Linked DNA regions of Homo sapiens. The protein of the gene in region 3 purifies or fractionates together with the protein of the main gene of each other region. This does not show direct contact. Each region holds a gene or a part of one and is shown on either strand. Other genes may lie near its edges. The genes, in order: PMPCA, PMPCB and PTPN7.

Region 1 (7,644 bases), on a different chromosome or scaffold from region 3:
GATGCTGGGTCAGTGCAGCATCCACCTGCAGCCACTACAGAGGGAGACCACAGACGGAGGCAGGCACTTTTCAAAGACCTGTGGTCACAGATGCCAGTTAATTTTACTCAGAGGCCGGGGGCAGTGGCTCGCGCCTGTAATCCCAGCACTTTGGGAGGCCGAGGTGGGCGGATCACAAGGTCAGGAGTTTGAGACCAGCCTGGCCAACACGGTGAAACCCCCGTCTCTACTAAAAATACAAAAATTAGCCAGCAGTGGTGGCGGGCACCTGTAGTCCTAACTACTCGGGTGGCTGAAGCAGGAGAATCACTTGAACTCGGGAGGCGGAGGTTGCAGTGAGCCGAGATCGTGCCACTCCACTCCAGCATGAGCAACAGAGTGAGACACTGTCTCAGGAAGAAAATAATTTTTCTTTTTTTTGAAACAGAGTTTCGCCCGTCGCCTAGGCTGGAGTACAGTGGCGTGACCTCGGCTCACCGCAACCTCCGCCTCCCGGGTTCAAGCGATTCTCCTGCCTCAGCCTCCCAAGTAGCTGGGACTACAGGCGCCTGCCGCCACGCCCAGCTAATTTTTGTATTTTCAGTAGAGACAGGGTTTCACCATGTTGGCCAGGCTGGTCTCAAACTGCTGACCTCAGGTGATCCACCCACCTCGGCCTCCCAAAGTGCTGAGATTACAGGCGTGAGCCACGGCGCCCAGCTAAAAAATTTTTTTTTTTATTCAGAGCTTATAACCTTTTAGGTGATTATAATTTTTTAAAAATTTTCCTCCTCTTGGAATACTTAGCAAGCTGGCGACTGCAGCCTGCCTTTACTGAGGGTACAGCCCTGTAAGTGCCCAACTGCATCCAATTCACAGCTTCTAGCTCACCAGTCCTCTTTAGCCGGTTCTATTCCCACGTGTAACCAGAAGCAAAGTCAAAGGGAAAGTGGATAGCAGGCTGTCACGCAAATCGCCTTGTCCTGGAAATCAAACCAGGCCACCCAAGAGGTAGGATGGCTCCAGGTTCTCCCCGGGAGAAGCCGCTCGGACAGGCGCTGTGCCAGAGGGCGCCGTGAGGCTCACTTACTGCGTCGTAACTTATCTGCAGCGTCCGCAGGTGCCTGTCTCCCAGAGACTCTCCATGAACCGCAAAGTCTGCGCTAGGACTCCCTGCCGGAGAGGCCGGAGACACGCGAGAATCAGTGTCACTCAACGCCCACGAGGGCAGAGACTCAGGCCCTGCCAGCTCCGACGGGGTGGAGAAAAAGGAAAGGTATGTGCTGCAGGGCGACGTGCCGGCAGGGACCCTCTCGGGGTGAGTCTGCTCGATGGCGGACGGCAGGTAGGCCCCACTCCATCCGGTGTCCTCATCCTCCTCCTCATCCAGGAGGTCACCAGCCCCTGTCGGATCCTCGAAAAATGGCTGCTGATACTCCAGGCCATACCCGCCGGTTTGGGAGGGTGGGGAGTTGTGGTCAAGTCCCAGGGAATGCCTCGAGGCTTCCTAAAAAAAAAAAAAAAAAAAAAACAATGGAGGCCATGCTTCTGACTCGGAGCGCATCTTCCTTTCTGTGTTCTGCCTCGCAACAAGAAGAAAGGCCCAATCTCTCTACCGGAAGGAGCCCAGCAGCTTCTGAGCCCAGAGCTGCTCCCCAGCACTGACGCCTGCCTGCTCTGCCACACTCATGCACGATTCCTCCAAAGGAGGCTGCAGAGGCCGGAACAGAAACGTCCCACAGAGCCATCGCCCACAGTGCCGTGGATTTACCTTTGCATAAATTCTGCTGGCCGGATCCTCTTTCGAGAGGCCGAGGTTCTTGGTCTTCAGAAACTCTCTAAAAGAGAATGGATTTGCCTCTTCCAGATCTTCAAATCTGTCATCTGAAATAACAGACATCACAAATGCATAAAGTCTACTGAAGAGCGTTGAAAGGGAACCTTCCTGTTCACCTGTCTTTCCAGAGCATGGCCACATGTGAGATCGGGCAGCCACGCTTGTCATTCTACCATGACTCAGGCAGCACTAGGAAGTGTGAAGGTGGCTGAAGGTGGGCAGTGACACAGACGTGCGTCTGCATTTGCAATCTTCTCCTTCCACCCCTCGGCCCCTGCTCCCACACTGTGCTGCTCACTAAAGCTCCCCTGGGGAGCTTTAAAACGACCCAAGCCACTCCACTGCACACACCCAGCTCCCTGGTGTGAGGTCAACCTGTGCTAGGAGCTCTCAAAGCTCCTCAGGTGGCCAGGTGTGGTGGCTCACGCCTGTACCCCAGCACTGTGGGAGGTCAAGGCGGGCGGATCACGAGGTCAGGAGACTGAGACCATCCTGGCTAACACGGTGAAACCTCATCTCTACTAAAAATACAAAAAATTAGCCAGGCGTGGTGGTGAGCGCCTGTAGTCCCAGCTACTCGGGAGGCTGAGGCAGGAGAATGGCGTGAACCTGGGAGGTGGAGCTTGCAGTGAGCCGAGATCGTGCCACTGTACTCCAGCCTGGGCGACAGAGCGAGACTCTGTCTCAAAAAACAACAACAACAACCAGCTCCTCAGGTGCTGCAACGCTGGGGACCCAGTGCCCCCTGACCCTCTTCCCGACTTTCCTACCTAGGTAGCCTAAATAACGCCCACTTTTCCCTTCTCCCTCTTGCCACCGCCTTCCCACCCTCCGGGGACTTAAGCAGCCACACTCGACCCTCCCAGCTGTGAGCCCCATGTAAAGCTGGCTCCTGTGGCCCCAGCCCCCCAGGTGGGGCTTCCCCGCTCCCTGATGTCACCTCGCTGCTACTCTAGGATCAAGACTGAACCCTTGAAATCCCACCCCCACCTGCTCTTTTGGGCTCCAGCTACACCACATAGCCAGTCACATTGACAGTCCCACCAGACACGTGCCTGGCACTGTGTTGGATGGAGACAAGAAGAAAAGGTTGCTGAACTACTCTACCTCCAAAATGTGTCCCGTGGGCTCCTGACGGGCTCTGCTTAGAACATTTCCCCTTTCCATAGCCAAAATCTGCAAAGAAACAATGTCACCCACCATGCTGGCAGGAAGTCTTTATGACCTCACATTTGGTTTTTTTCTTTTGCACATGGAGTCTCCACTGCAGTGGTTCTCACAGTCTAGAGAACTTTTTTTTTTTTTTTGAGACGGAGTCTTGCTCTGTCGCCCAAGCTGGAGTGCAGTGGTGCGATCTCGGCTCCCTGCAAGCTCCGCCTCCTGGGTTCACGCCATTCTCCTGCCTCATCCTCCCGAGTAGCTGGGACTACAGGCACCTGCCACCACGCCCGGCTAATTTTTTTGTATTTTTTGTAGAGACGGGTTTTCACCCTGTTAGCCAGGATGGTCTCAATCTCCTGACCTCATGATCCGCCTGCCTCGGCCTCCCAAAGTGCTGGGATTACAGGCGTAAGCCACTGCGCCCGGTCAGCCGAGAAAACTTTAAAAAAAACACAAGCTCCCAGACTTGTGACCCTGGAGATGGCCTGACTTGCAGACTGGCCCTGGTGTCCGTGGTCTGAAAGCGGCTCCTCAGCAGATTTTGAAGCCCAGCCGGGGCAAGCGCGTCCTCTTGTCTTGTGACAACCCCCGAATGTCCTCAGATCCTGGCATAACCACACAAACACTCCTGCACACCCCGGGCACCCAGCAGCACTTCTGCTTGGGTAGAACGAGGACGAACCAGATCTGGCCACTGCCCGGCTGTGGAGGCAGATGGAATGCTCCAGCTCGGTTTCCAATCACTGCCCACTAGGTGAAGGCACCCCGACTCCAGCCCCACGAGGAAAGCGGGCGGGCTCCTGTGCTCCCCGGGCACTAACCATCCTGTACTGGAACTGTCTGTCTTGGGGGAGGTCTCCCCGCAACCAGACTGTGAGCTCCTAGCAGGGGACTCCGCCTTTGAATTCCGAGTGCCTGGCACGCAGTGAGCGCTCTGCACATTGATGGGTCAATGGACGAGCTCGTGCTGCAGCGGAGGTGCCACACGTGGCGCGGGAACTGGAAGCGTCCCCGGGGCCGGCGCCCTCGTCTCTCACCTGTGTCTCCCACGGAAGCCAGCACCGGGCTGGGCACATAGCACATAAAGGCCGGCCGAATGCCGAAGAAGGGGGAGTCCAGGTCCCTGCCATGGGGGCGCTCACAATTTAGCTGGGGGAGACAAGACCGGCGCTCATAGAACGCTGGAGCTGGAAGCAACGACAACAGCGACTTTACTGCGTGCCGGGGCGGCCGCCGCCCACCTGGACCGCTGGACTCGGCCCCTGCCCCGCTCACCGTCGGGAATGGCGAGGCTCCGGGCTCGGGACAGCGGGGTGGCGCCCGGGCGGCGCTGGTAGCCCGACATCGCCGCCGGCCCGGCGGGGCACGACCTGCCTAGCCCGGCAGCGGCGGCTCCATGGCCCCGGCTCCGCCCGTGCCGCGGCCCGCGTCGCCCGCCCCCGTCGCCCGCCCCCGTCGCCCGCCGCTCGGCCGCCCCCGCGCCTCCGAGCCTCTCGCCGCTGCTTCCGCTCCGAGCACCGAAAGCGCGTGCCTGAACGCCTTGGGCCGTCGGCGAGGGGGAGGGGAAGCCGTGGGCGGAAGCGGAAGTGACGACTGAAGCGGGGCGGAGACGCAAGATGGCGGCTGTGGTGCTGGCGGCGACGCGGTTGCTGCGGGGCTCGGGTTCTTGGGGCTGTTCGCGGCTGAGGTGAGCCAAAGGCGAACCAGGCTTCGGCCTGGGGCGGGGGCGGCTCGAGTCTTTCTGGACGCTCCGTCTTCGGTTTCTACAGGTGACATGGCGCCCGTGGGACGGGCTCGCACTTCGGGACACTGGTGTCCCCGAGGCGACGGGGGCCCTGCCTTGCTTTGCGCCTCGAGCCCGGGGACGCAGTCCCATCTGTCTCTCCTCTCCCCGGCTGCTGGGTCCTCTCCCCCCCTCACTTCCCGGGTCGACGGGCCTTCTCCGAGGCCATGCCTCATATTTGCCCCCGCGCTTCACCTACCGCGTGCTCCTTCAGGAGGCTGAGCCGGTGGGGGCCCAGCTCTGTTAGACCCGCAGGGTTCTGACACCAGGGTCCAGGCTCTCGGTTGCTGCGGTCTGTCCGTTGATCTCTGACGTTTAAGAACCCTTTCCGTACCCACCGCTCCTCCCACCCAAGTGACCGGGCCTGCCTTTCCCCACGCTGGAACTTTGTTCCGACAGCACAGGCGTCGCCCCTCCCCACACAACGAGCGCCGTTTCAGGGGTGCGGAGGTGCTGCCTCCAGGAGATGGATACAGGCTGGAGCGTAAACAAAATATCGGCAGTCGCGTAAATGCTTTGGAGTAAACAAGCAGCCTTTCATGATAGAAAATAGCAGGAAAGACTAGACTGGTGAGGGATAGTCCTCCATCAGGGTGACATTTAAGGGAAGAGCTGAAGAATGAAAGAAGGGGTAGGCATGGGCAAAGGGCAAGCCCTGGAACGGTGAAGAAGCTTTGGGGTTGATGAGTCAAATGTGTTCCAGGAATTGACAAGAATCAGTGTGACCAGGACCTATGGGAGTGTGGGGGTTCAAGAGATGAGTTTGGAGAGGGAGACAGAGGCCAAGTCACACCCCGCCTTCGGACCAGGTTAATAAGGGATATGGCTTTTATCCAAGACTTCGGTGGTGCTGTTGGAGGGCAGAGCTGTTAAGTGCTTTATGTGTACAAACTGCACTTAGAGTGAGTTACTGTTAATAAGCCCTGTTTTTACAGAGATAGCAACTAAGACCCAAAGGACGGAACCAGCTTGCTCCAGGTCCCGTGGCTGAGCCTTTGTTGTCAGCCTCTGCTTTGTCTTCCAAAGTCTGTAGAAATAAGTCCTGTAGAAAGGCAGATGCTCACTTTTAACCCAGACAAAACATAACTAACCGCACCTAACAGGTCATCACAGGTTTGTTGTCTCAAGCCTGTTGTAACTGGGCCGCTTTCTCTGTTTTAGGTTTGGACCTCCTGCGTACAGACGGTTTAGTAGTGGTGGTGCCTATCCCAACATCCCCCTCTCTTCTCCCTTACCTGGAGTACCCAAGCCTGTTTTTGCTACAGTTGATGGACAGGAAAAGTTTGAAACCAAAGTAACCACATTGGATAATGGGCTTCGCGTGGCATCTCAGAATAAGTTTGGACAGTTTTGTACAGTAGGAAGTAAGTACTGTTGTGTTGTCGTGGGTGGTCCCGCAGTTTTAACATGCACATGCTTTAGTTGACTGTTAGTTGTAATTAGCATGCCAATTATGAATTGTACCCTGAGTGGAAACAAAGTGTACGATTTCATAAATGTTGAGCTACACATATACCTGTGAAACCATCAGCACAATCACCCTCATGTAATTAAATCTGATTATCATGTCATATTGACATCTTAAAATGTTTCTCTTGATTAAATCTTATTTTGAATATCTGATGTAACCTGTCAATTTTCTTTTTACTACTAGTTCTTATCAATTCAGGATCGAGATATGAAGCGAAATACCTTAGTGGAATTGCTCACTTTTTGGAAAAATTGGCATTTTCGGTCAGTACCCAGTTTTGTAATTTTTTAGACTATACTTTTGAAGGATGTTTGAGATTTTTCTTGTCTATAATGGTTATTTTAATAAATTATCAAGTTGCTAAGTTAATGTTAATAAAAGACTTTTAAGTTAAAAGATAATTTTTGTATGTGTGTTAAAAGCAAAAGTAGATTTTAAAAAAAAATTGTGTTTCAGGGATAGCCTGGATTGCTTATTTAGGTTTCCTTATTTATTTTTACTAGTCTACTGCTCGATTTGACAGCAAAGATGAAATTCTGCTTACGTTGGAAAAGCATGGGGGTATCTGTGACTGCCAGACATCAAGGTACACCAGCTTTTGTGTACAAACTGACTTTGGGTCCTTGGGAACTGACGTTCTTGTCGTTGCTCAGATTCCCTCTGAGCCCCTCCCAGCGGGAGGTGTGGAGATTCACGGGGAGAAGGAGCCCTGTCCTGGATGGAGACTTGGGTGGATGGCGCTTACACAGAGAAGCACAGCCCCCAGGAGCTCAGTTGACCCCCGTCAGTTCCTCCAGGCTGTTGGCTGCATGCCAGGGATGTAGAGCAGGCCCTGTTCCCAGATAGAGCAGAGGGCCTTGCATACGTAATGGACCCCGTAGCCAAAGGCGGTAGGAGCCAGGAGGATGAGTGGCTGACTTGGTCTGGAGTTGGGAAAGGAATCATAGGAAATGCAGGGTTGGGCTGGTTCCAGAAGGAGTTTGCTAGACACACGGGGCACAAGGCATTCCAGACCAGGAGACAGCAGGGGCAAAAGGCACCGAGCCAGGGAGGTGCCGGCTGCTTGGTGGAGGGAGGGGGCAGTGTTGCCTCGAGCACAGTGCAGTGGTCTTTGCATGCCAGGTGTGGAGCTTGTTCAGAAAGCACTGGGCAATGTGAGATGGGTGAATATAGATCACAGATTTTTAAAATTGTTGATTTAAGTTTGAATGCTAAAAAAATTACACATAAAAGACACATTAAATGCTAAGAATTAAAGTTAGCTTGGAGGTAACATATTCATGTTCTAAAACAAGGCCTCTTAATACCCCCTGACTCCCAGCTGCCCCTGCCAGGTTCCTGCCTGGTGTGTTTGATTCTCCGACTCTTGCCTCGAATCTCACTCATCCCAGATGAACTCCTTTCTCTGGCCAG
Region 2 (7,755 bases), on a different chromosome or scaffold from region 3:
AAATAAGATCAGCTGTACCCTCACCCAGAATTCAGTTTCGCTTTTTCACATTTCTGGAACTTACTCTTTTACAACAGACATAATAAAAATAGTACTAAATAATTCCTGATTCTCATGAAAATTACATTATCTGCTGTATAAATAATAACAGTACCTCTTGGCAAGTCTTTAGAGAATGCTTTGGCATAGTATACAGTCTGCTCTCTGGAGGTATAGGCATTGAGATGAGCACCCATATTTTCAATCTCAAGTTCCAGATCTAACTGGGATCTCTTCTTGGTGCCCTTGAAATAAAAGAGGAAAAACAAATTATGCAAACTCCCTTTATACTTCATCTATTCTACTTCAGATAATGAATATGGAGGACATAAGTTAGTTTCATGCAGGGTCAAATTTGGTTTCTAAAGTACATCAGGTATGGTACGATGGCTCACACCTGTAACCCCAGCACTTTGAGAAGCTGAGGCAGGCAGATTGAGCCCAAGAGATCGAGGCCAACATGGCAAAACCCTATCTCTATGAAAAAACAAACAAACATATATATATATATAGATACTCCCAGCTACTCCAGAAGTAAATGTGGGAGGATGGCTTGAGCCTAGGAGGCGGAGGTTGCAGTAAGCAGATTGCGTCACCGCACTCCAGCCTAGGCAACAGAGCCAGATCCTATCTCAAAAAAAATTAAATAAAAAAAAATAAGGTACATCAGGCTTCAGAAATGGTATACGTTCAGATAACTCCTGCATCCCAAGAGAAAGTTTTCATTTCAGCTTTACAAAGCAATTATCACTACTTATTTTAGATACTGTCCTGGAAAAATAAACATAAAACATGTTATACTACTGAAAGAGCTCTCCCTGCCTCTAAAGAATGAGACTTTGTGCTTATTATCTCTTAAAGAGAGTGCATTTTTGTAAAGTCTTACAACTTGCCTTGAAAGCCATATGCTCCAGAAAGTGTGCTGTTCCATTGTTCTTCTCATTTTCGTATCTACTTCCAGCATCAATCCAGAGTCCAACCTTAATGCAATCAAAGAACAATTAAATAAATTCATTTTATTTATTTGAGGTTGGGGGGAACAGTCTCCTTCCTTTTTCTGACAAATGCTTTCTGGTCTTAACACTAAGATTTTCTTGACCTGAGTGAATTGATAGTTCATTCCTGTGAACTATGAGATTTAAAAATTTCGATCAGGATACTGCTGGGTGCTACAAGTATCTACCTGCCACCTTCAATGAGGATTCTTTGCCCAACTCATTAATCCAGCCAATTAATAACTGTAGTATCAAGAACATCAGAGACTGTCAGAAAACTTCGGTTGAAATCCTGGCTCTGTCATGTATTAGCTGAGTTACCTGAACAAAACCATTTAACTTCTCTCACTTCCTTAACTATAAAACAGGTGTGAGGATGCCCACTACAAACAATTGCTTTTTATCAAATAAGACATCAGTAAAAACACTTGGCAGAGTAGCCCTGCAAACATATTTCTTTCATTATTATCAATACTACTGAAAATAAATAATCAATAATAAGCTACAAGAACAAGATGCAGACAATGCAACAGGATACATATGCACCCTGTAACTAAGTACCACTGGAAGAAAAGGTTCACAACTCATGGAAATCTGTCAAGGCAAAATAACTGTCACCCTTTTTGAACCACCAGCCAACGAAAAAGCTAAAGATTAAAATCAACAATTTGCTACGCTAAATGAAGGGTCACTTAGAGAAGGTTGCCTGAGTCACTTACTGTGCATGTTGAGAGCCCAGAGTCTTCCGAAGCTACTCTGAGTCCACTTTCTAAACATGTTACTCTTGTTTCAGGAACATTCAGAACAACTTGGGTAGCAGCCTGTGTACTTCTTAATCTGTTCTCTCCAAAATATAATGACTGGTTGGGGGTAGGAAGTGGAAGAGACAAAGCAAAACACATTACTAATCTGATATTAAATGTTGCTTTTAAAACCAAATCTATTTTAAATAGGCTGTCTCTATAAAAGAATCTTTCTTCTTGAATTTTGGTTCCACTGAGATCTCTGCCTGGCCTAGAAACATCTGTCACCAGCCACTGTCCTAAAGCCAGCAACGTGTTTATAAACATGCCCTTCCCTCAGGGAAGATGAGCAATTATTATCATTACCCAGAGAGAAATTGACTTTATTTCACTACCTCTCCTAGAAATGTTTTATATTCATTATGGAGAAAACAAGCAGGAAAAAAAAAAAGAGAGGGAAACTATGTAAAACTACCTACACACAAGACAAAACTGACACTCGGGTTTTCATTGTTCAAGAAAAGCAACAGGGTTTGGAAATGGTTAAAAAAAAAAAGAGAGAGAGGATAGGAAGATGGGTCGATGTTCAAAATGCAAATGACTGGCTTTTCGGCCAGAAACTATTCGCCTTTCAGCAGTTTTTCTTTGCCCTTATACAAAAGTCTCACATCCCTTTGCTTAAAGTCAGAGGCTCTCTCATGAGAAAAATGCAAATACATAAAAAATTTTACTTCATTGATGTCCAGGTTCGCGGGAAGCCCAGCTGAGGACGAAGTTCAGTCTTAGGCAAAAATAGAACTCTGGAGCGGTACCCATTTCACTTTTTAGTTTTCCCCAATTTGCAAGCACTACGTTTTTAGTGGTCAAACATGCACTCCTCAGTAGCTGGCGGGAGGAGCCGAAAACCAGGGTCATCCCACACGTCACTAGCAGGTCTCCTGGCGGGTGGCCACAAGCCAGTCACCCCCGGCCAGTTCAGCAGCCCCAGGCCGCCTGGCGCCCGGCGGGTCCGGGTCGAGGAGGCCCTGCCCGACCCACTGTTCGGATCTGTGGCGCCGACTCTCAGGTGCGCTGCGCCGGGTCTGGCGAGATCTCGAGGACAGGACCGGCCTGGAGGGAAGCTCACCCGTCCCGCAGCGCCTCGGATTAGAAGACTCTCGCTGAAACCCCAGAGCCGCCGCCGCGCCGCGGATGACAACACCACTCGAGCCGCCGCAGCCGCCATTTCTGCTAGAAGGAAGGTAGAGGATGAAGGATGTGCTTCCGGGGTCGCGACCTGAGGTCCCAGAGCAGGGAGGTGGGCTCCACCTTGTGGCCGTGATGGGAATGACACTCCTCGAAGCGGTTGTGAAAGCAATCAGGGCCCGACCATGATGCTGAGCGGTCTTTACCAAATGAATTGGGGAGTCTGCAGAAGCCCCTTTATCATCAGTTATTTTATCGATCGCCTACTAAGTGCAAGGCACAAATGCGGTGGAATGAAAGGTAACCTGATGCAATATATCTCACTGGTGGATGGAATTGATTGAAAACAGTGGAATAATATTCATAAGTCACTGCCTTTAAAGGAAAAGTCTAGTGGGAGAGACAGATGCCGTGAGGGGAGGAAACGATGTATCCGTGTTGACCACTATCCACTCTTCGAACCTCTACAATATGGCTCATCTCATTCCATAGAAATTGCCCTTGGTAAGGTCACTAATTGCTAAAAGTTGGACACTTTACAGACTTATGTTACAGTCCTGTTGGAGGATTTGACATTGTTGGCTTCTTTGAAATTCTCTTTTCTCAATATATTCTAGAGCTCCACCTCCTCATAGTTCCCTCTGCACCTTCTTGGACTCCTCTTTATTCACAGATCTGTTTTTTGTTTTTGTTTTTGTTTTTGAGATGGAGTTTCACTCTTGTTGCCCAGGCTGGAGTGCAGTGGTGCAATCTCAGCTCACTGCAACCTCTGCCTCCTGGGTTCAAGCAATTCTCCTGCCTCAGCCTCCCAGGTAGCTGGGATTACAGGCATGTGCCACCACGCCTGGCTACTTTGTATTTTTAGTAGAGATGGGGTTTCACCATATTGGTCAGGCTGGTTTTGAACTCCTAACCTCAGGTAATCCACCCACCTCCACCTCCCAAAGTGCTAGGATTACAGGCGTGAGCCACTGCGCCCAGCCCACAGATCTCTCAAGGAACTAAAAATTGCAAATGCTTTTCTAACTCAGGTAGATGGTATAGTGCTTATTTTGCAATTAAGACACTGAAGTCAAATAACTTGCCCCAGGTTACCCTGCTAGTAATAGGTTAACGCCAAAGACTGTGCTGTGAAACACTACATTTTGCCCTAAAAGTTGGTGTTTGCCAGGACTCTAAGCCTCTTCTACTGAACATTCTCCCTCTGGGTTTTTCCCTCCACTTCAAGACCTGTCTGCCCAACCCAGGCCTTTCTCTTGAGCTCCAGCCCACTTAACCATCAACTACTAGGAAACTACACTTGAATACCCCATTGGAAACTCAATATCAACTTGTCCAAAAGGGAATTCACTGTGTCCCCTGAATCTCTTCCCATATTTGCAATGCCAAACAGCCAATCATACCTACATTTGCCCAAAACTCCAAACCACCCAGAAGCTCCTCTCTTTTTCCATCTTCCACATTCAATTGATACACCCCTTTCCTGCCTCTTCAATCTACTCCAGGCCCATTGTCAGTTTTTTCACATTACTACCTATAGGATCTTTTACAAATGAAACTGTTACGGCAGTCCCATTATGAAGAATCCATCAGGGAGCCCTTGGTCACAATAAAGTAAAGGGTCCTTAGCATGGCAGGTGGGGCCCTTCATGATCTGACTCCCATTTATCTTTCCAGACTCATCTCCCTCCACCTACCCGGCTGCTATGCTTCGCAGGTTCAGTCCACAAGACTCATGATGTAATGTAATAAAGGACGACCAAGGTTATTCTCTCATGTTTCTAAAACAAATGTGTGTTAACCAAAAATAAATACAAACATGCATACATATATACAAAAACATGTAGGTATAATCACAGGAAGCACCTAGGAAGTTTTAGCAAGAATTTGTATTCAATTCTAATATACTTCATGGTATTAATTTATTAGTCATTATTTACAGTCAATATCTTAGAACATAAAGCCTACAGAAATTAAGTGCACCAGAGTAGAGCCAAGAAATCAAAGAATTTGACTACTCCCAAAATAGCCCTACACCCACAACAGTATCCATAACTTTTTTTCTTTTTTTTTTTTTTGAGACGGAGTTTCTCTCTTGTTGCCCAGGCTGGAGTGCAATGGTGCAATCTCAGCTCACTGCAACCTCCGCCTCCGGGGTTCTAGCAATTCCCTTGCCTCAGCCTCCCAAGTAGCTGGGATTACAGGTGCCCACCACCACACCCGGCTACTTCTTGTACTTTTAGTAGAAACGGGGTTTCACCAGTTTGGCCAGGCTGGTCTTGAACTCCTGACCTCAAGTGATCCTCCCGCCTCAGCCTCCCAAAGTGCTGGGATTACAGGCGTGAGCCACTGCACCTGGCCTATTTTAAATGATTTCTTCACTGACTGGATTTTACTGGCAGAGTCATTGCTATTTTTGTTGTTTGGAAATTTTAATCATGGATGTCATATTCCTTTAATTCTTTCATGTTTGAGGATGTCTGCTTTTATCTTTATACTTGAATGACATTTTTGTCTGGATTTAATATTGTTGGGTCACAGTTTCATTTTCTCAGAATTTTATAAACATTACTCCATTATGCTCTTGAGTTAAATGTTTTGGAGAAGTCTGAGGCTAGCCAGATTTTTTCTTTTTTTACCACCCTTAAATGTGACCTGTTTTATCTGCCTAAAAACCTAAAAAATTATTCTTGAAGTTCAGTAACTTAACTAGGCTATATCTTAATGTTGAGTAATTTTTGTGTTGTGATTTTTATCAAAATTTTCAAAAACATAATATGTTTTCATTCTGCAGTTTCACTTCTTCCTTCATTTTAGAGAAAGTCTCTTTGAATACATATTCTGGCATTCCATTCAGTATGTTATCTTTTCAAGGACTGCAGCTCTCCTTATGCTGAATGACTTTATCTGTCCTTCATATTTATTAGCATCTCTCTAACTTTTTAAAGCTTTGTCATTTTCCTCTACTTTTTTTGTGATTATCTCAAGACACAAGTAGGCCTACGCAAACATGCCCTACTAATTTTTAGCAAACGTGCAGAGGCAATTCAATAGATGAAGAATAGCATTTCAACAAATGCTGCTGGAACAATTAGATGTTCATATCCACGGCTCCCCGCTCCCCAACTCCCAATGAACCTAAACCTCACACTTTATACAAAAATTAACTCAAAATAAATCATGGATGCAAATATGTGACATAAAACTATAAAACTTTTAGAAAAACACGTAGGATAAAATATTTGGGATATAGGAATAGACAAGGAGTTTTTAGACCTGATATCAAAAATATAATGCTTAAAACAAGATTAAAGCCAGGCGCGGTGGCTCACGCCTGTAATCCCAACACTTTGGGAGGCCAAGACAGGCAGATCACCTGAGATCAAGAGATCGAGACCATCCTGGCCAACATGGTGAAACCCCTTCTCTACTAAAAATACAAAAATTAGCTGGGCATGGTGGCACGCACCTGTAGTCCCAGGTATTGAGAGGCTGAGGCAAAAGAATCGCTTGAACCTGAGAGGCAGAGGTTGCAGTTAGCTGAGATCGTGCCACTGCACTCCAACCTGGTGACAGAGGAAAACTCCATCTCAAAACAAACAAACAAACAAAAAAAACAAGATTAAAAGCTTTTGCTCTAAAAAAGATGCTGTTAAGAGGATGAAAAGACAAGCTACAGACTGGGAGAAAATATTTGCAAACCACATATTCAGCAAAGGACCTGTGTCTGAATTATGCAAAAAAACCCTCTCAAAAACAGTGAAAAAAAATGGGCAAAAGACATGAACAGACATTTCACTGAAGGAGAAATACAGATGGCAGATAAGCACATGAAAAGATGTCCAATATCATCAATCATTACAAAATGCAAATTAAAATGATGAGCTATCGCTACACATGTAGCAGAATGGCTCAAGTGAAAAACAGCAATAACACCACATGCTGGCAAGGATATAGAAAAACAAGATCACTCATACATTACTAGTGGGAATATAAAACTCCAGAGTAGTACAGCCACTTATTATACAACCCAGTAATTGAACTCCTGGGCATTTATCCCAGAAAGATGAAAACTGAAGTTTACACAAAAACATCTACACATATATTCATAGCAGCTTTACTCATGATAGCCAATAATTGGAAATAATGCAAATGTCCTTCAACAGGTGAATGGTTAAACACACTGTGGTACATTCGTACCACGGAATACTACTCAGCTCTCAAAAGGAATGAACTACTGATAAATGCAACAACTTGAATGGGCCTCAAGGGAATTATGACAATACCAAAAGGTTATATGCTATATGATTCCATTTATATAACATTCCTGAAATGACAGAATTATAGAGATGGAGAATAGACTCGTGATTCCCCAAGGGTTGGACTGGGGAGGGGAGAAGCGCAGGGACAAGAGGGAGATGAGTATGGCTATGAAAGCGTGGCATGAGAGGTTCTTGAAGCAATGGGACCATTCTCTATTTCAACTGTGCTGCTAGTTACACGAATGTACACATGTAAAATTGCATAGCATTAAATACACACAAATGAACGCACATAAAACTGGTAAAATATGAATCAGTTCAGTGTATCGTATCGACGTCAATTTCCTGGTTGTGATATTGTTTCTATTCATGCAAGATGTTATTGTTGGGGCAAACTGGATGAAAAGTATATGGGATCTCTCTGTATTATTTCTTACAGCTACAGGTGGACCTACAATTATCTCAAAATAAAAAGTTTAATTAAAAAAAATGAGGTTACATTTCCAAAACCTTTTTCTTTTTATGGGAAGG
Region 3 (7,791 bases):
ATTGAGAACAGGGCCTGGCCCAGGGTACATATCTGCAAACATTATTATTGCTGCTGTTGTGATTCTTGCTCCTTCTTCCCCCTTTCTCTGCTGAGAGAAGATGTGCCAAGCAAGGTTGATCTTCCCTGGCTGAAACTGTGTACTTTGTCCTCTGAAGTTCTCTAGCCCCAGGGACTGTACCCGACTCCCTTCATCCCAGCAGCAGTTCTTACTTGGCAAGATGGTCTTGTATCGGTCCTTGGAGGCGTGGCCAGGGATGTCCAGGTCTTCGGGGCTGACAAAGTTTGAAGGGATCTTCTGGCAGGGGGAGGAAATGGGTGAGCAGCTGACTCCTAGCCTCCTTTTCTCTCCTTCTACCTTTTTCTAGAACAGCTGGACTCTGGCCATTCCTTCTTGACAATAGTATGTAGGCCTAGATGGGGTGGGGGCAGAAGGGGAAGCCTGGGGGCAGCCCCTCCCTCAGCCCTGAAGTTCTCTTTCCTAAGGGGCCCAAAGGGGAGACTTGCCCAGGGTGCCCGTGAGAGAATGGTTCCAGCTGGCTGCCTCTGATACAGAGGGCAGAGCGATTCAGAGGGGACCCCAATTTCTTACCAAGAATTCTTCTTCCAGTTGCTTGGGGCTGGGTGGCTGGCGCTGAAGGGCCCAGCGGGTAAGGGGGTGTCCAGCAGTGCGCAGAAAGTGTAGGGTGACCTCCCGGGGTGTGTTCACAGAGCAGATGGGTTCTACGGCCCCCAGGGACCGAACGTCCAGCATCAGAGCCACATTGGAGCCCCGCCTGCAGGCATAGCCCACCACTGCCTAGTGAGCACCCAATCATATTTGCTTTTCTTTTCTTTTTATCTTTTCTTTTAGAGATAGGGTCTCTCTCTGTTGCCCAGGTCTGGAGTGTGATGGCACTATTATGGCTCACAGCAGCCTCAAACTCCTGGGCTGAAGCAATCCTCCCACCTCAGCCTCCAGAGTAACTGGGACCACAGGTACATGCTACCACACCTGGCTAATTTAAGTTTTTTTTTTTTTTGGAGAGACAGTGTCTTGTTCTGTTGCTCAGGCTGGTTTTGAACTCCTGGGCTCAAGTGATCCTTCTGCCTTGGCTTCCCAAAGTGCTGGGATTATAGGCATGAGCCACTGTGCCTGACCATATTTGCTTTTCTTACAAGTATTACTGTTATAAGGCACCTCTGAGGGGGCCGCTCTTTATCTTTCCTTTAACCTGGTAGCCCAGTAAATTTAGGGTTTGGGCCCCTGCTGTGTGCCCTCTTTTTTTTTTTTTTTTTGAGAGAGAGGAGGTCTCACTATATTGCCTAGGCCGGTCTCTAATTCCTGGACTCAGGAGATCCTCTCACCTCAGCCTCCCAAAGTGCTGGGATTTTGGGCATGAGCTACCATGCCTGGCTCAGCCCTCTCCCTTTGTCAGCCAGAACAGGGCAGCCTTGAACTCAACTGCTCCTTCCAGCTGCCTGCCTCTTCCCACTCCCAGCCAGGCCCTGTGGCTCCGACATGCATCCAGCACCAAGAAGGCTGTGGGCCTTGCCTGGAATTTAGGGAGCAGGCTCATGGTTGATATGAAACTCTGTGCTCCAGACATGCAAAAGACATGCAAATGAGCACTACTGGTTTCCTTTCCAAATTGGAGTCAACAACTGAGGGCCCTCTGGACCCTGCTGTCAGAGCTGGAGGGGCAGATGGAAGGAAGGGAGGAGCGGAATGGGGGCTCAGGGCTCGGAAGACCCCTCCCCCAGGGAAGATCTCACCTCTCCTGCAGTCGCACATGCTTCTTGGCTGGCGTTTTTTCAGGCGGAGGCTGGGTCATGGCTGCCCCCAAAGACAAGGTCAACGGCTGTGCTCTGGAGCGCCCCCCATGGGCTTGGACCATGCTGAGGTGGGGTGCTGGGCCCAGGGGAGGCTCACTCAGCCATGAGGTCTGCCTGAAAGACAGGGCCCTCCGCTGCTGTTCTCTGGCCTGCCTGATTGGCCAGAAGGAGGCTCCCATGCCAGGCCAGGTTTGCACTCTGTTTTCACTGGGGCGTCTTCTGTTCCCCAAGAGGTGGCCTCATTTTCACTAAGGGAAGGACAGGATCTATTTGGTGGGACCCAGGGCAGAAGGCAGTCTCGGGGTAGAGTAACGGCAAGATAAAGGGTAGAGATTGTGGATGAAGATAGGAAAGAATCCAGAAGGAGGAAAAGAGAGAGGGGAGAGAGGCCACACACCAGAGTACACAGGGCTCTGAGCAGGTCCAAGTGGGAGAAGGCAAGGGAGGAAACAGAAAATATGTGTTCTCTAGGACGGAAGGGAGAAAGCACGCAGAAGCCATCTCTGAGCTAACCAGTGGGCCTTCCCCTGAACAGAGAATGGAGGCCTCCAGCAGTGTTGGAGCTGGTTGGGCAGCCAGGCAGGCGGGCTCCTGGACCCCAGCAGGGTCCTCTCCTAACTGCTGCTGTTCCACTCCCAGGTCTGTTTCTGGCTTCTGGGGTCTCTGTCCAGGGAGGTAGGCTGGAGGTGTTTCCTTCCTCCTCCTGCCCATCCCCCCGTCTCCCGCCTCTGTAACCGTCACAGGAAATGGCCTCACCAAGCCCTTGAACGACAGCGCATGGTGAGGCGACAGCTGGGGGCAAGACAGGAGGCATGGAGGTGGTGGGACCATCTCCTCTTGGGGGCAGTCCCTATCTCCCAGAGCCAGGGTCACAGTGGGCGAGGTGGCGGGGGTGTTGAATCACCAAGGCAGCAGGGACGGAGGTGAGGGGACAGAATGGGCCTGGCACAGGTGTGAGTGGTAGAGCGAGGGTCTCTGGTAGCAGAAAAGGTCCCTTCAGCCTCTGCTCTCCTTGTAGCTCCCTGTGGCTTCCCTGCTCACCCCCGTCTTGGGGACATCAGGTCTGTGAGCACCCATACCCCAGCCAGGCACTGTGGCGCCCCACTCGCCCTCCCGCACTCCCTCCTAGAGATGCCCTCTTATATCCCCGGAGTTCGCACCCCCCGGGGCCACAGGACTCCCAGTCCCCCCTTCAGATACTTACTGAAGCAGCTGTGGCCCCCAGGCTGCCTCTTGCCAGCTGTCTGTCTGTCTGTCGGTCTGTCTTTGAGGGCTGAGAAGGCTCCAGGAAGCCAGCTTCCTCCCTCCGCCCCTCCTTGCTGCCACCCACGCACACCCCAGCTGCATTCTGCCCTCCTGTGCCTGCTGCCGCTGCCACCAGGGGTCGGCTGCCTCCCGCCTGTGCCCTTCTGGGGCCCAAGGCCCCGTTCCCTGGGAATGGGTGAGGGGCCAGGCCTTCCCGACCATCCTGCTTTCCCCAGCTTCCAGACCCTCTCCCCTCTTCTGTGTTTCTCCTCTGGGTCTTTGTCACATCCAGCCGCTGCCTACTTGCTGGGCACAGCTCGCCTGACCCCCAGCTCTGTGCTGTCCCACAAAGAACCCAAGGCTCTCCTGCTCAACCTGACCTTGGCCGGAGGCTTATTTCTCCTTCTCTGCTTCTGCCCCACAGCCCTCTCCCTCAAGGCCCTCTCCCTCAAGGCCCTCTCCCTCAAAGCCCTTGCTGCTTCAAGCCTTGGGAATTCATGGCCAAGCACAGACCACATCTTCCCAGAGCAGATGTGGCACAGACTCGGGGTGGGGAAAAAGAAGAAGCAAGAATCCATGCCTCACAATGTGAAGGAAAGGGCCGGGGCCAGGCCAAAAAGGTCGTCTCCACGCCTGTGCCACGGCCCAGCTCTCCACAGCCCACGGCCTGAGTGTAGGCCAGCCCAGCAGGAAGCAGATAGCAGAGTCCACTTGTGGGAGGGAGTCCGAGGGGCTTCCCCTGGGCCCTCAGCCCCCTGCAGGCCTCCTCCCAGAACCCTGACATCTACTTAGAAGACTTACAGACAGTGGACAGTCTCTGGCCCTCACACCAGGGGACTCCCATGTCCTCTTCGCTGCTGGGGTGCCTGGATGCCTGGGACCTGAAGGGTGGCCCCCAAGTCCAAGACTCCTCTGCCCACTGCCCCTGCCTGACCTTGGCAGGCTCCTTGCGGGCCAGCAGCCCAGCCGGTTCATGCTCGCTGCACGCCTCCTTTTACCTTGTAACATTTCAAACGCCCTTCCCTTCCCGGCCCCCAACATGCACAATCCACGTCCTCTTTCTTCCTCCCACTTCCCTGATTCAGCTGTCAAATGGTGACAGCAAAAAAGAAATGAGGTACCCTAGGCACAGGGGGTAGGCATGCCGGAGGGGGTGGTCGGGAGGGGGCTGGCCTTCTGCTGGCCCCTTGAGGAGGAGGGTTGAGACGAAGAACAAGAACAGCCCCCAGAGGCTCAGAAGGCCTCCCAGCACCCGCCCTTGCTCTTGGCAGTGGGGACAGGGGCTGGCTCTTTTTTGAGCCCCTCCATGGCCAGCTGATCCTGGCACCTCCTTCCCTGCAGCCTGCGTTCCTCTCCGGAGTGGGTGGGTTTCCCTGAGGAGGAGGCCGATTAGGGCTGGGAAAGGGGTTGGTTCCCGTGCTCAGGACAGACTGGAGGGAAGCAGGAACCTGGGAATCCCTAACATGCTTGCGAGCAGTGACCTGGAGACTGGCCTCTGCCTCACCCCCCACACCAGTCAGTGTTTCCACTGGTGGGTAGTGGGGGCCCTGGGGACACAGGAGGGGGCAGGTGGGGGTTGGAAAGAGGGCCCGGCTCTGAGCCTATGCTGATTGTTATCAAGAACAGGAAGCTAGGACACCACAGGGGTGGGAGGAGGAAGCGGCAAAGCCCTCCCCACACAGGTCTGCCTGGTCCCCCCAAGTTTCCAGGGTCTGAGCCCTGTTGGCTGTGAGCCCACCCCTTTCCCCCACAGACTGAGGCCTAGCAGTGGCTGGACAGTTGGAAGCTGAGCTTCACAGCAAGGAAGCTGGGAGCCAGGCGATGGGGAAGATAGTTGGGGTTGGGGGTGGGGGTAGTGGCTGAGCATTAGGCAAGACCTCTCAAAGATCCCCTGTTCCCTCTGGGTGGATGTGGGGTAGAGGGGACAGTCACTCCTTGGCTCCTGCCCACTCCTTCTTCCCCTGTGCTTAGGGATACCTGGACATCCATGGAGGTGTGTGGCCAGAGCTCATGAGGGCTGAGGATGCCAACTGCAACCTCAGATGGCACAAGACATGCGTCATCGCCCTGCACCTCCCCCTCCCCAGCCTGGCCTGGTGACTTGGGACGCCCCTCTCTGCCCTCTCTGGAGTGGACTCTGTCCCATCCGGGCTGTTGGAAGGCTCCTGGGCGTGACTCCCTCTCCCCTCCAGAACCTTCCCACCCCTGGGGCCAAAAGGTCACAGCAGCTCTCAAACTTCCATCACTCGAATCGATTTGTGTTCCTGGGTTGAGATTTAGGTTCTAGCCACCCTCGACTCCAGAGAAAGTATAGTAATAGTTGGAAATCAGAAAGATCTATGCATAATGAGTCTAAACGTAGCTTATTAACTGTGTGACCTTGGGCAAATTGCTGAGTCTCAGGCTCCTCCTCAGCTTCCTCCCTCCACTGGGGGATGATCATAGCACCTCCCTTGTCAGCCCATGGTGTGCTTTGCTCACGGAGGAGAGGTTGGGAGTCAGCAGCCAGAGGACCGAGGAGCTGGGAGGAGCTGGCTGGGGAAGTGGGTCTGGGAGCAGCACAGGGTGAGGAGGTCATGGCTGCCGGGTCTCACCTCTCACCAGCCTCCCTCTTCCTCCTCACTGCTGACTTTCTCCCTGAACCCGGGCTGCCGGGGCACTTCCAGCCGAGCACTGAGGAAGTGCAGGAAGGAGTCACTCCCAGGGGTCTCCCAGCATCCCGGGTGGGACAGAGTCCACTCCAGGGAGGACAAAGAGGGGTGTCCCAAGCCACCAGGCCAGGCTGGGGAGGGACTGGTGCAGGGCATGATGCATCTTGAGAGTCAGCCTTGTCCCATCTGAGGCTGTGGTGGGTGCCCTCAGCCCTCCCAAGCTCTGGCCACACACGTCTTGACTCTCTTGTTTTCCCCTCTAGTGATTCCCAGTTCCAGGGCTGTGAGCCGCAGCTCCCTGCCCCAAGTGTCAGAAGCGCCCCCCTCCCTAGCCCAGGCCCGGGGAAAGGCGGACATTACATCTGGAATTCCCAGAAGTCGTTGCTCTTTGCCAGCCCCTAGGGAGTAGGGAGCTCCTTGCTGGGGAGCAGTTGGCCCCCAGAGGCAAAGGCTGCCACCTTTTAACAATCCAAGGGGAGGATCCTGGGGAGAGAGTCAGCTGCCTGGGGCCAGGACTGCTGGGTCCTGCACACTCCAGCTGCTCTGCCCCCTTCCTAGCTGCCCTCCTCGGCTCCTCTCTGGAGAAGCACTAGGATCTCGGGTGGCTGTTCCTCCATCCTTCCCACCCCCAAAACCCTAGGCCAGCCTGAGCTGGCTTGTTCTGCCCCAACTTTGTAGGCCCTGGCTTGTTCCTGTTTGTGTCGGGGAGACAGAAACACCAAGAACTGGATCTGGGAAGCCTCATCCCACAGGAAGCAGGGAGACAGCAGGGGAGACAGGGTGAGTGGGGCAGGGAAGTGCTGTTAAGGGCATGGGATAAGTCCAGGCTGACCAGAGTGACAACTGCACCCCTGTCTCAAAGCTTCAACCCTGTGCCGGGCCAGCTAGGGACCTCCTGCTACCTTTTGGATGAAGGGGAACATCCCATACCCTTTACCCCTGGCTGAGAGGACCAGTAATCCAGCCCTGCTTGGCACTGGGATGCCAGGGCCAGCCTGCCAGGAGGTCCAGGAAAGTGCCTGGTTCTTTGCCCGATGCTGGAACTCAGGACCCTGGCAGGAAGGTTTTAGGATAGAAGAGTCCCTCCCTCTCTCCCAAGCCCAGAGCCAGCCAAATGGACATCTATTCTACAATGTGGCCTTTTCTTCCCAGGGGCTCCCGTCTCCCTCCCGCTCTGTGTTGTCCCCGGACACCCACTCATACATCCATCCAGACAGGTGTGTACACCCTCATGGCCCACGTTTGCACAAATGCACATGCACAGTGTCAATCCACACATGACCAGCCCCTCCCCTGCTCTCCCATGGCCTGGTCAGGGGGACCTAGGCCTTCCCCCACTCCCTGGCCACCTTCCCCATAGTATAGGCAGCAGGGGGAGTGGGCGACTTGGCTGTCCTGAGCCACCCTGCCCCTCTGCTGCCCGGTGATTATCTTCCTCCAGTGTGGGGGCTGCCCAAGGCCAGGCTTCAGGCTGTGGGAGAGCAGGGAGGGGCCGGAAGAGCGCTGCCTGGGACAGCTGTAGGCCAGGCCAGTTCACATTTGGAAGCCAGCACTCCCAGACCTGCCCCTTGCTCTCTCCTCTGCCTCCTGGCTGGCTCTCTCCAGAAGGAATCAGTAAGGTGCCCTGAGACCTCAGGGTAGCGGGGGGGAACCCCAGGGGTTCTCTAGGGAGAGGATGTGGGTTTGTCTGTGGGGGTGGTTGCTGGGGAGGAGATACAGCCCTCGTGGTACCTTTTCTTTTGCTGAATGGAGACGTTTGGGCTGGGGAGGCTGCTGCTTATTTATTTTATTTTTTTTGAAACGGAGTCTCACTCTGTCACCAGGCTGGAGTGCAGTGGTGCCATCTCAGCTCACTGCAACCTCTAACTCCCTGGTTCTAGTGATTCTCCTGCCTCAGCCTCCCGAGTAGCTGGGATTACAGGCATGTGCCGCCACACCCAGCGAATTTTTTGTATTTTTAGTAGAGACGAGGTTTCACCATTTTGGCCAGGATGGTCTTGATCTCCTGACCTGGTGATCCGCCCACCTTGGCCTCCCAAAGTCCTGAGATTACAGGCATGAGCCACCATGCCCAGCTTATT

Evidence for each region.
Region 1: the proteins of PTPN7 (region 3) and PMPCA purify together in Homo sapiens (affinity purification with mass spectrometry, with the first as the bait; 2 studies listed by BioGRID). This does not show direct contact.
Region 2: the proteins of PTPN7 (region 3) and PMPCB purify together in Homo sapiens (affinity purification with mass spectrometry, with the first as the bait; 2 studies listed by BioGRID). This does not show direct contact.

The regions. Positions count from the first base shown.
Region 1 is NC_000009.12:136,406,076-136,413,719, forward strand, and holds the start of PMPCA (mitochondrial-processing peptidase subunit alpha isoform 1 precursor), read left to right. Parts: upstream 1-4,582; 5' UTR 4,583-4,593; coding exon 4,594-4,664; intron 4,665-5,921; coding exon 5,922-6,124; intron 6,125-6,414; coding exon 6,415-6,494; intron 6,495-6,734; coding exon 6,735-6,817; intron 6,818-7,644. Other genes in the region: ENTR1 (endosome-associated-trafficking regulator 1), read right to left, coding at 1,070-1,486, 1,751-1,863, 3,799-4,164, 4,253-4,322. UniProt on the Homo sapiens protein: Substrate recognition and binding subunit of the essential mitochondrial processing protease (MPP), which cleaves the mitochondrial sequence off newly imported precursors proteins.
Region 2 is NC_000007.14:103,292,707-103,300,461, reverse strand, and holds the start of PMPCB (mitochondrial-processing peptidase subunit beta isoform 1 precursor), read right to left. Parts: upstream 3,028-7,755; 5' UTR 3,003-3,027; coding exon 2,904-3,002; intron 1,895-2,903; coding exon 1,754-1,894; intron 1,020-1,753; coding exon 933-1,019; intron 285-932; coding exon 155-284; intron 1-154. UniProt on the Homo sapiens protein: Catalytic subunit of the essential mitochondrial processing protease (MPP), which cleaves the mitochondrial sequence off newly imported precursors proteins. Preferentially, cleaves after an arginine at position P2.
Region 3 is NC_000001.11:202,157,527-202,165,317, forward strand, and holds the start of PTPN7 (tyrosine-protein phosphatase non-receptor type 7), read right to left. Parts: upstream 3,019-7,791; intron 2,464-3,018; exon of another isoform or gene 1,994-2,463; coding exon of another isoform or gene 1,877-1,993; coding exon 1,755-1,876; intron 776-1,754; coding exon 592-775; intron 298-591; coding exon 213-297; intron 1-212. UniProt on the Homo sapiens protein: Protein phosphatase that acts preferentially on tyrosine-phosphorylated MAPK1. Plays a role in the regulation of T and B-lymphocyte development and signal transduction.